2 separate regions of the Homo sapiens genome follow, and region 1 is linked to region 2. Evidence: fine-mapped QTL for protein levels in blood plasma. A gene starts in region 2. The other region holds a variant in brackets. All regions are shown on one strand. Distances are between the middles of the regions.

The links. A credible set is the group of variants that fine-mapping cannot tell apart. PIP is the chance, under the fine-mapping model, that this variant and not a neighbour inherited with it causes the effect. Sun 2018 read protein levels with aptamers (SomaScan).
Region 1: its variant is the best candidate, but not a certain one, in a credible set for the plasma level of the TNFRSF19 protein (Sun 2018, PIP 0.87).

The regions. Positions count from the first base shown.
Region 1 is chr13:23,606,170-23,614,512 of GRCh38, forward strand. The region is part of intron 3 of TNFRSF19 (TNF receptor superfamily member 19); the gene reads left to right. Among named protein-coding and RNA genes, the nearest start is that of TNFRSF19, 40 kb to the left of the region's middle. The variant G/GCA (reference allele first, on the strand shown) is at 4,957.
Region 2 is chr13:23,565,337-23,573,679 of GRCh38, forward strand. It overlaps TNFRSF19 (TNF receptor superfamily member 19), which reads left to right and starts at 5,076. Exons shown (of 10, transcript NM_148957.4): 1 at 5,076-5,512. RefSeq lists enhancers at 2,487-2,999, 3,000-3,511.

The DNA of each region.
Region 1 (8,343 bases), 41 kb after region 2:
ACAGGTGCTGTATTTCATATTCCCATGGCTATCCAGAAGAAATATTTTTCTCTAGATAGCAGTTTTCCATAAGGATTGAAAGAGCTGTCCCCCTGTGAAGTAAGAGCCAAAGGGAAGCAACCAGAACATTTCTGCCTTTATGTACTTATTTCATTTGTTCATCTTCTGTTCCCATATTTATAATTTTTTTAAAAAAAAAGACCAGGACAAATTGAATGAGGAGCAATAAAAGTAAAGGTAATAATGCCAGTGAAAAATGAGATTCTTAGGACCCACTCAGGTGCACAGTTGTATACCATGTTACCACATGCCTGCCCTGAGCTGTCCACCTGGAAGCCCATGTTGTTCAGTCTTCTACCCTGTATCTACAGAGCACCCAGCTCCTGACACAGTACATGAGTGAACAAATCAGTTAATCTCAAATATTACTTGGAAAAAAAAGTGACACTTAAATCTGGTAATATAAAAATGAATGAATTTGTGTATATGTTATAAATCATATATTTTGCCAAGTCTTTTTTCTTAGTTTTAGCTCATAATAAATAAAATCAGCAACTTAACTTTGCTCATGCTCTAACATACAACAGAGAGGCAAAGGATTCAGATACACAAATGAAAACATAAATATATTTTTATTTTCCACCCCACTTAACTCAGAGAGCTTGAGCTTTTTATAAGCAGTTACTTTAATGTTAGATGTTTTTAAATTGTCCATTCATGAATTTGTGATTTCTTCTTTTCATTGTTCCTTTTGCAACAGCATATGTCTTTCAGAGGAAAGAAAAATAAGTTATGAGGATATTAAAGTCAGATAAATCACTGAAATTAAAATTACATTTAACTGGCTAATTTTCACTTCCAAGCTTTACAAATCAAGGGAAAATTTAGTCTTTTGACTAAGACTAAGCTTTAAATTTTTTTTCAGACAACTACGTTTATAAATAATCTTTTTTAAAGCTTGAGATATTAAATGTATAGTTTGGGCCAGGCACAGTGGCTCACATCTGTAATCCCAGCACTTTGGGAGGCCGAGGCAGGTGGATTGCCTGAGGTCAGGAGTTCCAGACTAGCCTGGCCAACATGGTGAAACCCCATCTGTACTAAAAATACAAAAATTAGCCAGGTGTGGTGGTGGGCGCCTTTAATCCCAGCTACTCAGGAGGCTGAGGCAGGAGAATCGCTTGAGTCTGGGAGGCAGAGTTGTGGTGAGCCGAGATTGCACCACCGCACTCAAGTCTGGGTGACAAAGTGAGAAATAAATAAATAGATAAATAGATAGACAGTTTGGAGGGATACCTTTTAATTTGTAATTAAACAAGTCTCAGGGCCCTTTTTGACTGAGGCTTAGAATTTTGGTTACCTATGGTATTTGAAATTTTGAAAGCAGAGTAAACATAAAACTTTTTAAAGTTAATTATGAAAAAGAAGAAAAGCTAGACCAAACTATTGATATATACAACAAAAGATTTTTTTATATTGTGGGTAAAAAGTACATTTTTTAGTAGGCCATTAGCATTTTCAAATAACTTTTATTGTAACATTGTTATGTTATTTGCTTCTCTGTATTAAAGGTATCTTAAAACTTCTGACATTTTCTGTCCTCCAGTCCATCTGTCTAAAATAACGCACTCTGGGTCATGAGGTTCTTTCAATTACAAACATGTACCTGTGCCTTAAAACTAAAGCCTGGAAGTGCTTTGGTTAAGCAGGTATAGTTAAACTTTCCTCTGCGGTTTTATTTCTCCTAATTATTATTTTCTTTGGAAGGCATTCAATTCTATTTTTTCCCAAGGTATCTGAGCATCTCTTCCATTGTTAGTTAGGTTTCTACCATAAAAATGTGTAGTCAGGGCTGGCTGGGGCTTCTGGAATCGTATTCCTGGATACAGTCTACACCTTGACCCACCAGTGGTGTGTGGTCAGTAGGTCCCAGCCTCTTTTCACTTCCTTTCAATTATTAGGTATTAAGAAGTCTGCACAGCAGCTCCAGGTCCACCGATACTGTTGCTGACTTAGATTGATGATACCCTTCTCTTCCTTGGCCACTTTTAAAAGATTCTTATTTTAACTGTTTACCTTGGATATCTTGGGCTATGTTCATGTAAACGACATCTGTTAACATAAATATGAGCTATCTCTTGTAATACATATTATGCAACTAAGATAATATTAGCTAATTTTTCATACAGTAAGCCAGGTACTATGTGATCTTTGTATATTAAATAATGGAATCCTTACAACATATGTTTTAAATAGGGAATATAACCATCCCCATCTTATGGACAGGGAAACTGGGACACAGTGGTTCACTGATTTGTCCATTGTCACTGCTAGTAAGTAACAGTGCGGGAGGAAGGAGTGGTGGAGCCACGTGGGAGTAGCAATCTCTTGCTCGTTTTGTAAATAGCCTAGTGCAATTCTCTCTGATAGAACTGTCTGTGATGGTGGAAGTGGTCTCTATCTGCTCTATCCAGTATACGAGCAACTAGCCACTGCGGTTACTGAACACTTACAGAATTTTATTTCATTTTAATTGATGAAAATTAAATGAGGCCACATGGGGTCTGGCTATTGTATTGGACAGTACAGCTCTAGAATGATTAACTTTCTTCCAGTAATTCTGGCATGGGACCAGCCTGTAAAACAAGGAGATACCAGAATCATATTGACCTAACGCACATGCACTGCGGGAGCTGCCTTGCTGGTCAGCCTTCTTCCTGTCCTTCTTCCTCTGAGCTACGCTCGACCTTGCCACCAGTTCCCGACCCATCTGTTTCCGGTCCTCCATGCTCCTCATGCCAGATGCTGTTGCCCTGGGCGTTCTGAGCAGGCGCCTCTCGCTAGTTCCTTTGCTTCCTTCCCTGTAAGCCCCAAGCAGCATCTCTTCCCATTCAGTTCTTTTTTAGAAATTTTGCTTAATACATAGTTATCTTTCCTGCATTTTTAGGAAAATATATGACAGGTCGCTGAGCCATGTGGAGTCTGAGGATTTTATCCCATTGAGCCATATTTACCCTATCTCTCCTCCACTACAGGATTTCGATTTTGAAAGTGTATGAGAAAGATAATTCAGAATATTTTTCCTATTTCAGAGTCAAAAAATACAAAAGCTTGTTCTGGGCGCCCCATAAGTAGTACCTGCTGGGCATTCTGAACCATAAATATGGTGAGGGTTACTCGGCCATCAGGCATCCTTTCAGCTCCCAAAAATAAACCTAACTTTGGGATATGTGGGAGAGGATGATTTTTGTTTTCCTGAAGTAACCACATTAGACTTTTAATTCTTACTGCCTAGAATTCGCCCAGCCCCAGCCCATCCTCCTCACTCGTATTAATGCCAACAGTGTGCTTGTAACACGATCGCCTCGCAGCAGTAAATCAGGAAACTAGTTTTTGCATGAACCACTTGAAACAGGCTTCAAGTCTCTGGCACAGTTTTCAAAGTAAACTTTTCTAACCAATTATTGGGAGGACTTTAGTTAATGTGAAAAAATTAACTCTTGTAAACAACAACATACTTTCCTCCGCACGGGGCATACCCAGCTTCATATTTCTGAAGATGTTTACATTTTTGAAAACTGTTTTTGTCTCTATGAGGAAAGTTTTAAAAAAATTAATTTGTAAGCATAAAAAATGAGATTCATTTCTGCCATTTAATGACAGTGTTGCTCACTTTATTTATGTTTAATTATAGCTGATCTAGCCTAGGGATGGTTGTAAGATATTAACGAGCCCTTGCTTGTCAGTTTTCTCTAAAAAACTCAAGCACAGCCTTTTAGAAACTGAAAGTTGAGGGGAAATATCTCTTCAATGTTGTTTCATTAAAGGAAGTTAAAAGTTGATTTCTAAGCACCAGCAACATAAATCTAATTTGTCATTTGCATTTGCATGCCCTAGATTCTCCCTTCAAATAACTTCTCCATCCACATTTAAAATTTAACATTTAACTTTGAAAGTTCAAAGGACTGCAGTTAATAACGCACTGGCTGTACAAATAAATAGTGCTTTCAACCCAAGGCCCAGAATGTGTTTCCTGGACAACAAGGGTCTGTGAGTTTTCCCCTGTGGTCTGAAGAGCTGCTCCTCCAACCTGTAGGTAGGACCCGCTTATGTTTTTGTTAAAGGCTGGATTTGCAGAAGGAGAAAAGAGAGAAGGGGATTTGGGGACTGTTTACTTTGAGTCATTTTGCTACTGGAAAACCACCAAATGTGGCTTAAAAATATTGGGCAGAGTGACAGAGCTACAGCTTGGGTGGAAGTAGCCCAGCTGAACCCAGCCCTCTGCTCCCTTGGGACCAAGATAAGGAAAGCTGCTGACCCCACTCCACCCAGACATCCCCAGCCCAGCCCACCCTGCCTGCCATCCTGCAGCCCAGGAGGACTATATGGCCTCACCACATGGGAGCCCTTGCTGGGGCCGTTACAAGCTATTGCTCCCTAGGATTTTTTTAAAGTATTTAGGAAATACTACCTTAAACAATATTTGTTCATCCGTTTGTTTATCAGCAGGCATTTATTTATTATTCACCGGCCTGTTAGATACCAGGCTTTTGGGAAGGAGAGGTGGAGGGAGGCATTGGATACCATGGGTTGTTCACTTCTCATATGATTTTAGGAAGTAAGTAGGGGCCCTATAATAATGCCTTTTTTTGCATTATTATTTTATCTATGCATATATTTTCCCATCTTAAAGTTTATTGATAAAAAATGTCTTCTCAAGGATTCGGGGAAGTACTGCGTACTTCCTTCAAGCTTTTAAGGTACCAGGTCATAATTTCAAGAATACAGACTACGGGGTATTTTAAAACAGAAATGCATTTCTACCATTGATATTAATGGCGGACCATGCTCCATAAACATAATCACATATCCCTTATCCTGAAGCCCAGGCTAAAGATGGACATACTCTGCCTATACCCTCCTTGCCCTCCCCTCACCAGACACACACACACATGT[G/GCA]CACACACACACACACACACACACACTCCTTCTCTTGCCATGATGGGAGGGACAACTCTAGTGCAACTTGGAAAGTGTCAAAGAAAACCCAGAACTGGACAGTGGAACAGCAGATTTTACTCAGGACTGTTGCAGTAGAGGAAATGAAAGCTCAGTGTAGAACTGGGCTCCACTCCAAATACAGCACAGGCAAGTGGGGATATATAGCCAAGGAGCAGGCTGGGTTTGGTGGATGGAAAATCATGAAGAGGAACCGTCAGAGGTGAGGGAGATTCTGGCTAAAATGACCTCACAGGATTCTTGCTGAAGACAGGCCAGGGTGACCAGGCATCACCTGGGAGATGGTGAGGGTTGAGGAACCTGAGAAGATACTGAGCATGGCCAGATTTAGCCAGGTTTTTGGGAAACTGGGCTCTTGAGGACAGGGCCCAACAGAGAGTGGCTCCTAAGAACCTATCTAGAGTTTGGTCAAGGAGAGAGTCCTTGTCAAAAGGCTAAACTCAAACATAGCTCATTTCATTATTTATTTGCTTACTTGTCTGCCTGCAGCAGGAAATAATATACCTAGGGAAATTACTTCTTTCTATCCCTATGGGGGAAAAAACAAAAAAGATTTGATACTATTTTCATTTGCTGCATGGTTAGGTCATCTGATCAATACAAATGCAGTGGGCCAAACCTAAATGGATACCCTCTCTGTGCCAGGACTTGGGGTGCAGTGGTGAGTAAGAACAGCTCCAGCTCTATCCATGCAAGGGAATACTCTCTATTTGCTGATATGGAGCACTGTCCAAGATGTATGGCATGGGAAAACAAATCTAGTTGCAGAACAGTGTTAAATACATGCACTCACGCTAGGAGGATATTTTTGGCAGGTCACCCCAATACCTGTGTTGGGGGAGTGGGAAGTTAAGGAGCAGGGATGGGAAGAAAGGTGTACTGTTTGATTATTTTTGTTAAATCTCATGTGTGTAATAGTTTTTCAGTATACGAATGATAAAAAGAAAAGAAATGATCTCGGCCAGGGTGGTGACACAAGTTTGTGAAGGCAGTGTCAATCTGTGCTAACCAATGTCACCATGGGTTGGAGGCTGTCGAGCTTCCCTTTCAGCTGTTTTCCCTCTTTCTTTTGTTCTTGGTAATTATTTATTGAACTTAATGGGGAAGATTTCAAGGCATTTTAACCACCCAGCTTTACTGAATGAAATGAAAACATCAAAGCAGACATTTATATTGGGGGTAATTTAGTATTTATATGTAGTTTACTTTATAGCCTGGATTATGAGTAATTACAGAGTCTGTGTTTAAGGTGCATTAGAAATATGACAGTCAACTCAAAAAGCAGTTGCTGTCATGGACACCATACTGTAATTTAATTTCTTGGAATCACCTTCTTTGAATTTCTAGTTATTTCATGGTTTCTAGTTAATTCAATGTGTAGAATGGTCACTTCATCAATTTCTTAGACTTTTATGAACTGCAGGCTATTTTTTAATAGTTTCAAATTAATATTAGGCTTTAAAAATATTACATTTTTGAAAATAGTAAATACTTTAGAGAAAATCTATTTTAAGTAAAATTTCCCAAATAAACAGTCTTTATGAAAGTTCCCATGAGTATTTGGGATATGATCAATGAATTTTATTATTTTGCCAAAAAATAACCACAAAGACCTCCACCACATTAAGTTGTATGTTCATTTTCAAAAGAGTTGTGACACTCAAAACTTTTAGTCCATTGGATTACTTGTACAGTTTCTCAGTGGAGGGAGGAGGTGACTTGGAGACAGTCAGCAGGACAGGGAGCCACAGTTGAATGACTGACTGGCAGGAACGCAGGGCTCTTATAGCACGGTGCAGCAGTTGACTCAGATAGGGTTGAATTAGAGTTTGTGTTCCACTAAACTTGTTTTAATTAAGAAAATTATGATTTCTTTTTGAAAGATTCTTAGTCAATAAAAATGTCTTAGATGGAAATTGGGGTCTGATGATCCCCTTATTTCCAGGGAAGCTTTATGATTCTTGAATCAGCAAAGTTGGTTTATTTATTGGATTGTAGAAAATCCAAAATCCTAACACTTATAGGTATAATTTGTTTAGGAAATGTGCACTCCGTGCTTGATTTAGAGTTGAGCACTTTATATGCATTCCCATTTATTCCTCACACAACCTTTAGGGCAGGTATTCTTATCCCCATCTCACAGATGAAGAGACTGAGGATCGGAGAATTCCCAAAATAACTTGGCCAACAAGTGGCAGAGCTGGCATTCAAACTCATGTCTCTTTAGATCCAATGTAGGAAAATACATACTTTTCTCCTATGTTGACCTGGCTTGAAACAGAATTTCCAAGGACATTTATTTCCAGTTAATGCACCTCTTTCTCTGCATTCTCCTTTCTCTTTCCCTTGTACTTCTCCTCCTTCTTCTTTTCCTTTGTTGTGTTTTAACTCGTACATGAGACTCTTACAACCTCAAGCTGCCTGGATCAAAGTGTGATTTTGAAATACTCTGCTCTTTCCTGAACCTTTGCTGTGGAGAACCCTAGCTTGGGAACAAGGTGGAGACCACCCCCAGAAGGTCACGTGCACCTGTGCCTTGATCCCAAGGGACTTTGGGAGTGGGAGGCTCTCTCCTATACTTCAGAAAGCCTGTGCCTGCACACAGCTCTCCCAGCAACCAAAGTGCTCAGCAAAAACACAGCTGTCCCAGCCCAGAGCCAGAGTCACAATGATCACCCCGCAAAGACCCAGCACATGTCCAGAGAAATTCTCCTTGAATATGCATCTTTATTGTTTTCCTATTACAAGAGTAATGGATGCTTTTTGCAAAAATTACATTTTGCAGAACTGTAAAACTTGAGACCACCCCGTAATTCTAATCTTCCCCTCCTCTGAAAGAGATAATCCCTGTTAACAATTTTAAAGAAATTCTAACTTGTTAATCAGTTCTTTAAATCAAGTGTTGTTTGTCTCCCCCCTCCTCTCTGTGCCTCTGATATAGAACATTGTGTGGCTGGAGCTCTCAGGAGTGAGGAGGAGGCTGACCTTCCACCCTTTTCTCCTCACTTCTTTGTTGTGCACACTCCCGATGTACGTTTGAAAGACAGGCAGAGTAATTGAAAGGAGGAAAGAAAGTATCACTCACCCAAAATGTGAATGAGTTAATTAGTAAAAATCTAGATGGAAGTGATTCCTCCGAATCCTTTGTTGAGTAGTTTATTAAGTACAGGCAGCACTATCCTTCAAGTTGGTTTTCATTTAATTTTTGGCCAATAAGTACTGCTTAGTTGATTTCGTATACAAATATGGATGAAGAAATTAAAATATGTAAATTTTACAGAAAAAATGGGAATGTTGAACTAGGTGGGACTTGCATTTTAGCATCCA
Region 2 (8,343 bases):
AAACACTTGAGACAACAATTTGGCAGTTTCTTTTTTTTTTTTTTTTTTTGAGACGGAGTCTCTCTCTGTTGCCCAGGCCGGAGTGCAGTGGCGCAATCTCGGCTCACTGCAACCTCCGCCTCATGGGTTCATGCCATTCTCCTGCCTCAGCCTCCCGAGTAGCTGGGACTACAGGCACCCGCCATCACGCTTAGCTAATTTTTTGTATTTTTAGTAGAGACGGGGTTTCACCGTGCCAGCCAGGATGGTCTTGATCTCCTGACCTTGTGATCCACCCACCTCGGCCTCCCAAAGTGCTGGGATTACAGGCATGAGCCACCACGCCCAGCCAGCAGTTTCTTTTGAAGTTAAACATACATACACCATATAATCCAGAAATTCTACTCCTACATATTTACTTAACAAAAATGAAAATATATATCCACACTAAGACTTGTACACAAGTATTATCAACAAATCCACTGAAAAGGATCTTCCTTAAAAAAGAGAATGATTTTATTCCTGTAAGCAGTTTGCAAACCAGGGAGACCCAGCCTTCAGTACAAAACAAAGATGCTCTCCCTGAGAACAGAGAGACAGGTTATCCTTTATAGAAAAAGCTCCCACCCAGATTCCCACTCTGGTCTGCTCTGCAAGTGAGAGGGATGCAAGTATGTTTGGTTTTGATTGGTCAATGCAAGTCACAAGTCTATTTGTTAGATCCAGAAGTCAAGATGAGACTTCCCAGCACCCATCAAATCAGGGAGCATAAATAGGAGCAGACAGCCATGAAAGTCCCCAAATCACGCGAGCCTGTGGTTTCTCAGAGAATGCAGAAGACGTTTGTGACCTGGCTCCATTCTGAATTTAGACCCAGTTAGCCACTCAGGATCCATTTGGAAGGATTGGCTCTTTCAGGTTCATGAAGTGTTCATGGCAGCTTTATTTACAGTAGCCAGAAACTGGGTTCTATCCCAGTTACCTTTAGTGACTTTCAGTCATACTCAGCTTCACTGAACAGTACCCCTGAACTGGCCCTTTAAGAAAAGGAAGGCGTCTTCTGCTCACGAGGTCGGAGGGAGTCCAGAAGGGCAGGGGGTGTCCACTGGAGCTGGGGGTGCTTTGTAGGAGGCAGATGCTGATGAGGAGAATGTAAGGCTTCAGAATATGTAGGAAAATGGGAGTTGTACCTCTTTGTAGTTTGTTGGATAGTGGCTTTGTATTAGTTTCTTGAGGCTGTGATAACAAAGTACCACAGACTTCAACAGCAGCAGTATGTCCTCGCACAGTTCTGGGGGCTGGAAGTCAGAGATCAAGGTATCAGCAGGGTTGGTTCCTTCTGAGGCTGTGAGGGACAGGTCTGTTCCCGGCCTCTTACCCTGGCTTGTAGATGGTCATCCTCATGTCCACACAGTGTTCTACCTATATGAGTGTCTGCCTCTTTATCTAAATCTCCCTTTTTATGGGGACATCAGTCATTCTGGGTTGGGGCCCACCCTAATGACCACATTTGAACTTGATTACCCCTGTAAAGACCCTATCTCCAGATAAGCTCATGTTTTGAGGTGCTGGGAGACAAGACATCAACATGGGAATTTAGGGGGATACAATCCAACCCATAACAGGCTTGAGCCTTTTTCTTTCTGTGATTATGTGGACCACAGTCCCAGATAGCAGCTACTGGTCCCAGATCATGTACAAGTGGTCCCAGCATTGTGAAGGACCTGAGGATGTCTGGGCTACCTTGGCTTTGAATAACCAGCCCAGGAGCTGTGTGAGAGCCTGTCCTGCCCCTTTAGAATACTGAAGTTTGAATTGGATCCCCTAGCTAAAATGTTGGCATTTTAATAGTTACAGAGAAAAGAAAGGAACCTTAGCTCTTCTGTTGAGGGTTTATTCTGCCTGATGCTTTCGAAATAAGTTTGTTATTTTGGCAACACTAATGAGGTAGGTGTTATCCCCTTCCTGCAGCTTAGGATTAAAAAGCTCAGTGGGACTAGGTAGCCTTCGTCCACACTGCCTAAGCTGTTATTCAAGTACAGGTAGTAAGAGGGATTTGAACATAGGCCTTTCTGACTCCAGCATCCGTGTTCTTTTCATAACCATGAGCTATTTCATTTTCTAAAAAGTGTTCAGTTGAAACAAATGCAGAAATTATTCCTCTCAATGTATGTAATAGATCTGTGTTTATCTGATCTAATCCAGGATATATCCTCTGAACAGAAAAGTTAGAAAAGACGGCATTAGAAAAGACATGCAGACAACTCAAAAAACTATGAAACTTTATGGGGAAAATGTGTTATCACCTGATCTATATCTTAAAATGGTGAGAATTCATGGCATCCACCTGTCAAGATAAAGGAGCAAAGGAACCACGCTCCAAGTTTTGGGAAGAAAATAGCACATGGTGGCGACTGGGGGTGACATGAGACCCCACTCCCCATCAGGAATCTCAGGCAGCCCCTCCCTTCTTGGATATGAACAACTGAAGTTTTCTCAATCATTTATTTTATTTTTTAACTGATTAATAATAATTATACATATCCCTGGGCACCTAGTGACATTTCTATACCTATAAGGTATAGTGATCAGATCAGGGTAACTGGCATGCCCGTCATCTCAAACACTGACCACTTCTTTTAAAGTGTAGCCTGGAGCTCCCCACTGTGGATCCAATGGCTGCCACAACCACTTTGCAGAACCAGGTCGCTGAAAGGCAGCTTGACAAAAAGACTAAGATGAGCCAAGTGTACTGCAACATGGCACAGGAACCATTGATCAAATGCTGTAACTTGGTGTCATGACAACGGACAATGATGTCGAGTGGAGTGCTGGATCTCTTATCACCACTGTATCACACTGATTTAATCACACTAATCTAAGCTTCTTGAAGGGGAAAGAGAAAAGCTTTGTAGTAGCTCCCCTTCCTGGTGCTGTTCAGAAACAACAATGGTGCAGGCCACACCTCACAACGAAGGGGGCTCGGCTGGCTGGGCACAGTGCTAAATGAGCCGCAGGTCAAGAGGTCACTCCTGCAGCCAGGCCGACCTTTAGCCACACTCTGGTCCAGGCGACAGATGGGGCCCTAGCCTCAGTCCCCTTTCATCTCACATATGGGGAGTTCTTGGCCACAAGAGGACCAATTCAAAATAATATCCAGTGACTTGGTGAATAAACTCTTCCACTGGAGATGGTATTGCATTGTTGGATGTATCTTGAACTACAAAGCTTGCTTGGGGAGATTTGTATAAATTGAAGATCATTTGATTGGTTTTCATTCAAGTCCCTGCTTTCAAGTGCCTCCTGTATGTTTTTCAGTGGAACACAAGAACCCGAATTCAGTCCTTCACCTATTTCTACTGGTGTTGAAATCTATAAAGACATAAAATCTACTTGCTTAGCCAATGAGCCTTACAGAGTGTCTAGTTGCTCTGATTTAATATATCAGTGTATCGGGAAACTTTAATCCTGAGTGCAGGCTGTTGGCATATGGATTCCATGCTGGTGGTAGGTTTGGACTACCTCAGAAAAGAAATGGGCACATGCCTTCTTGTAAATATTTTGTCTTTGTAAATATTTTCTTTGTATTCATGGGTTCAAGATGCCCAGGAAACGTATGTGAAGCCCAGATGTCACAGGAATTTTCCTGGTCTGCTTTAAGGAAGTCCTTAAGCATCACACCTGCCAGTTCAAATACTATTTGAGCCCTGTGCATTTTTGAGAAATGATGTATAAGTAGAAAAATTATACAAGAAACATGGAAAAATCAACAGGACTATTTAAATGTTATACAGAACTTATGAACAGTTCAAACTAAATATTTTGCTATTAAAATTATTCAAGAATCATAGAAATCTGGAAATAAACACTTCATAAATAACGTTTTCAAATATCGCGTCAGGAAAAATTAGACAAAACCAGTTAAGGAGGGAAGTTACATTGAAAAAGACTGAGTTCTACTATCCCCTAAGTTTTGCAAAAATATTTTTAACTTACTTTCTAAAAGTTAGTGAGTTTCCATTATAAAATAGAAAAATTGTCTTCATTCCATGAAAGAACTGTCTGAAAATCAGAAAAGCACCATATCCTGGATTTCAAGGAAGATGAAACTTCTTCTTATCTTCTATTTTACTAAATACTCAAAATAAAATAATCATATTGTATTGAATCTGACATTGTTAAGGAAAATAGCTTAAAATTTTTAAATAATGAGCAATATATTTAATTTTAAAATACGAAGAATTAGGCTAAGGTGGTAATTTTTTAGTGAGTTGAAAGTCCAAACTATGAGTTCGGAAGAAACAGCCCTAAAAGGCAAATAACATGGCTTTGGAATAATCACAGGGCAAATGCTTTGTTCTACATAATTCTTCTTTTGTGAATTTTAAAATGCTCAACAAGTATTAATGAAATATGTCTAAGAAGTAGATATTGCTTTAAAATCTAATTTCCAGAGTCCCGAACTAAGGCAAAGATTGAGATTAAGTCTCCGCCCAAAGTCTTAAGTGAGCCAGTGGAAGATGGCAGTTTATTCATGAATTGTTGGTTATCTGCTGCTTAACTACTTAACACAACCCGGTTTGATTGGTAATCAGATCCTAATAATGTATGTTTCAAAGAAAGGGCAGTTTCCTTAAAATCCTTAAAGACTTGTCACTTTGAAAACTGGAATCAAAATGTGAAAATGTTATCGGTCCATCTGGCAGTGTCCTTGGGTGTTTTTTAGAGTGGTCTCATAGTGCTATTTAACTATGCTGAATATTTGACACCCAGTCTCTGTAGGAAATTGTGATTTTTATCAGCGAAGAGGCAATTAAATGCTGTCATTTGGCACGTCCATCCATCAGGGATCTTATCACCCAAGAAGCATCCAGCAGCAGTTGCTGTCCTTTCCAGCTGGCAGACAGATAACAGAAACTGTCCTGTGTGAGGCACAATAGTCTAACATGATTAGAAATCAGCCAAACTCTGGCTTCTCTTGAGCTATACTCCCCCACAGGCTGAATTATAGCTCTCCTACCAGTCCCACGGCGCTGAATGATGTCATGGGATCTGCAGTTCAGCGAGATGAAAGGGATAAAGCAGAACCCGCTGGCACTAGGAAAAGCTTCCAACACACAGTCCACAACACAGCTTGGGAACCAAAAAAGCTACAGATCCAGCCACTCAGCCCAAGCATGGGAGAACTACCAGCATTGCCTCATTGCAAAAAAGAGGAGGAAAACAACGTGATCCATGTTTAACAAAAGAGTCTGTGGACTAGGAGGTGGGAGGGTAACTACCTGCTGAAAGTGAACTTTCTTTGATATCCATGCATATATATAAACTCAGCCCTGCCTTTGATGTTCAGCAACTGATTCACTGATCAGATTACAGGCATTTCATCTCCCTGCTCGTCTGCCTTTGATCTGCATGGTTAATTTTATTTTCCTGGATTTGAAGTTTCGTCTGGGCTTGTGCTGACATACATTTTTGGGAAGGTAGAAGCATTTGGCACAGAAGTGCTGCCAGGAGAAACTAAGTTGCTGAACGGGTAAGTACTGCAAAGAGCTCAGCATGTTGCAGGTACTCTGTTTTAAGCTTTGTTATAGCTTTCACTGCATTTTTCGCATGTGTTCTGAGAAAAGAATGGTTTTAATTAATTTTTTAGAAAGCATTTATACAGCTGAATACTACATGATGCTGAATGTGTGTATCAGAGTAACTATGGAACTTGATGTAATTTTTAGTAGTTTGTACAAGAGGGTTTGCAGTCTGTCATACAAATTTTACTTGGAAATGAGTTGTACAAACAGGACAAAACAGAACAGCGCTCACTTTAGCATGCAACTGGTACTTCAACCCCTGAGATCTGTGAGCTATAATTGCTCTAAGTATTTACAGGTTACCTTATTTAGTAAACAGTCAGTGCAACTTTGCTTGTTGAAAATGCTTTCTTTGTTTTCTTATATAAAAGAGTAAAATGTATCTCTGGCAATACTGTTTCTTTAGTTTATTTATTCTCTCACTTCCAAGATGTAAATCTATCAAATACACTTCCTTATGCAGTTTGTACACTCAAGGGAATCACTGAAAAACCATCAAGTATGATTAAAGACTTTTATGTGTAAAACTGAAGAATTTAAAAACAGTGAGGATAAAGTTGCACTAAGTTTGGCTAAAAATACTCCAGTGATTTTCTATAACCTTTGGAAATAGCATAAGCCTTATTTACAGAAACATTCACAAGGTTAATATTCCTAAATTAACATTTACTTTACATTTATAGTGACAGCTGTTTTAAGTCAAAATTTGCCAACTGTTTATGAAAACTATCTGAGTAATCAACAGTTATTATGTTACATAAAGTATCTTAGTCACATTTTCACTTTAGCTAATGCCCAACATGACAAAACCAAATTATATTGCTGTACCGAATTTGAAAGTTAACTGTTATTTTTTTGTCAGTTCATGATACACACACACTCACGCTCACACACACACACAGTAAAATCTTTACAGTGAAATATAAAAACTAAATACAATGGAAAAGTAACACTGTTACTTTGTTCGCGATGTTTTTTTTTTTAATGTTCTAGTCCTAAATTTATCTGGGCAAAATATTTAATTATTATCACAAGTCTATTTGATGCTAGCTGAACCATAAAGAAACCATAAGTGATAAGACCAGTTATCCTTTAGTCTGAAATTCTGATGAAACAGGAAAGGTCTAATGAGTCTCATTTCATAAGTAATTAATTTTTCACAGCCAATTAATTAAATTACTTTCTACACTTTCCTCTTGATACTAGAAGGGTAATTAGCATTGTTTATTTAATTTTAAAACTTTGCTAGTTGTTAAGTGGAGGTTATTTAAAGCCATGCTAAACTGATTATATTTTTAAAGTGTGTCATTAATAACTTAATCTTAAAGATTTAACTGCTGTTTTTAGTCATGCCAGGAGAGGCATTTGCTTTTTTTTTCTAAGAGTACAACAAATCATGTTCACAATATCCTGCAATATCGGTTTAGTTTGATTTTTTTTTAATTTGTTTGCTTAAAATCTTCCTTTTAATCACAAAAGTGGTATTAATGTTCACATTCAGATAAAGAAAATTAGCCTTTTAAAACAATGACTGGAGATGGTGCCTAAAGAAATAGTGTGTCTGAAACTTGCTCATTTAGTTCAGATTTGGATTTTAAAATTTTTAAAATGACTGTTTATCCTGCTACTAGGATCATTTTAACAAATACAGGCTCTCCTCAGCACAAAACAAAGGGGAGAATTAGCAATTATCTGATTAATTTAGGCTTTGTAGAAAACTAGCTTGGGCAAGTCAAGTCCTTGAAAATCCACTTCAGTGTTTGAATTAATTCAGTTAATTGTTTACTTCTAGTGTCATTGTTGAGAAATGAAATAGAGTGTATTTGATTTTAAAATAAAGATGGTTGTATCTGAAGGTACAGGTACAGTCTCAAAAGGCATTTCCTAATTAATTGCCACAAAATGACTTTGGCAGATATAGTCCTATTACTTCTACTGAACAAAACCCTTATGTGACATTTTTCAAAGCACTTTCCTATCTGTTGCTTCAATGGCAGCTTTGTTACTACAGAAAGTCCAAGTCTTCAAAAGACTTTTATGTTGAGTCCTGATACTGTCACCAATTAGCTATATGACCTCAAGAGAGTTTCCTCATGTGTGAAGTGAGGGAGTTGATCACATCATCTTTATGAAATAAGCAGAATTGGAATTTTTATGGCCATTTTACAGATGAGGAAACTGAGGCTATAGAAAACGAATGTCCCTATCTTAACAAGGTCACATGGCTGATTTTCCCAGTTCTAGTCCAATGTTCTTTCCAGTCTACCATGCAGGGTCTGCTTTCCAACAACTGCTTAAACAAATGCACTCTGTAGCTCATCAAAGAACAATATTAGTTTGAAAAATAAAGACAGCCACTTCCTATTGTAGTGCATTTTTTTTTTGTTTCCATGATAGATATGTCAGTCAGCTGGATTCGTCTGATTATTTTCCAACTGTTCCTTCTACTTCTGGACTTCTAAGCTGTCTAAACACAGTAGCTGCTACCCATAATTTAACATAATTTAACACGTAAAATAATTTTCACAAAAAGTTTAATGCATCAATGTGATGTGGAATTATATATGTATTTGTGTGTTTGCCTCTGTGTGTGTGTGTACATACGAGTTTGGCATTATATCAACACATATTTGTGTGTTTTGAAGGAATTGATATTTTCTTAGATGATGCCAGTGGCATCCAAAAACAGTTTAATAATTAAAGGTTAATTTTCCTCCAGGGAAATTCCCAGTGGGATTCTGTGAAACTTCAGTTGACAAACTCAATGTGCATTTCAAAC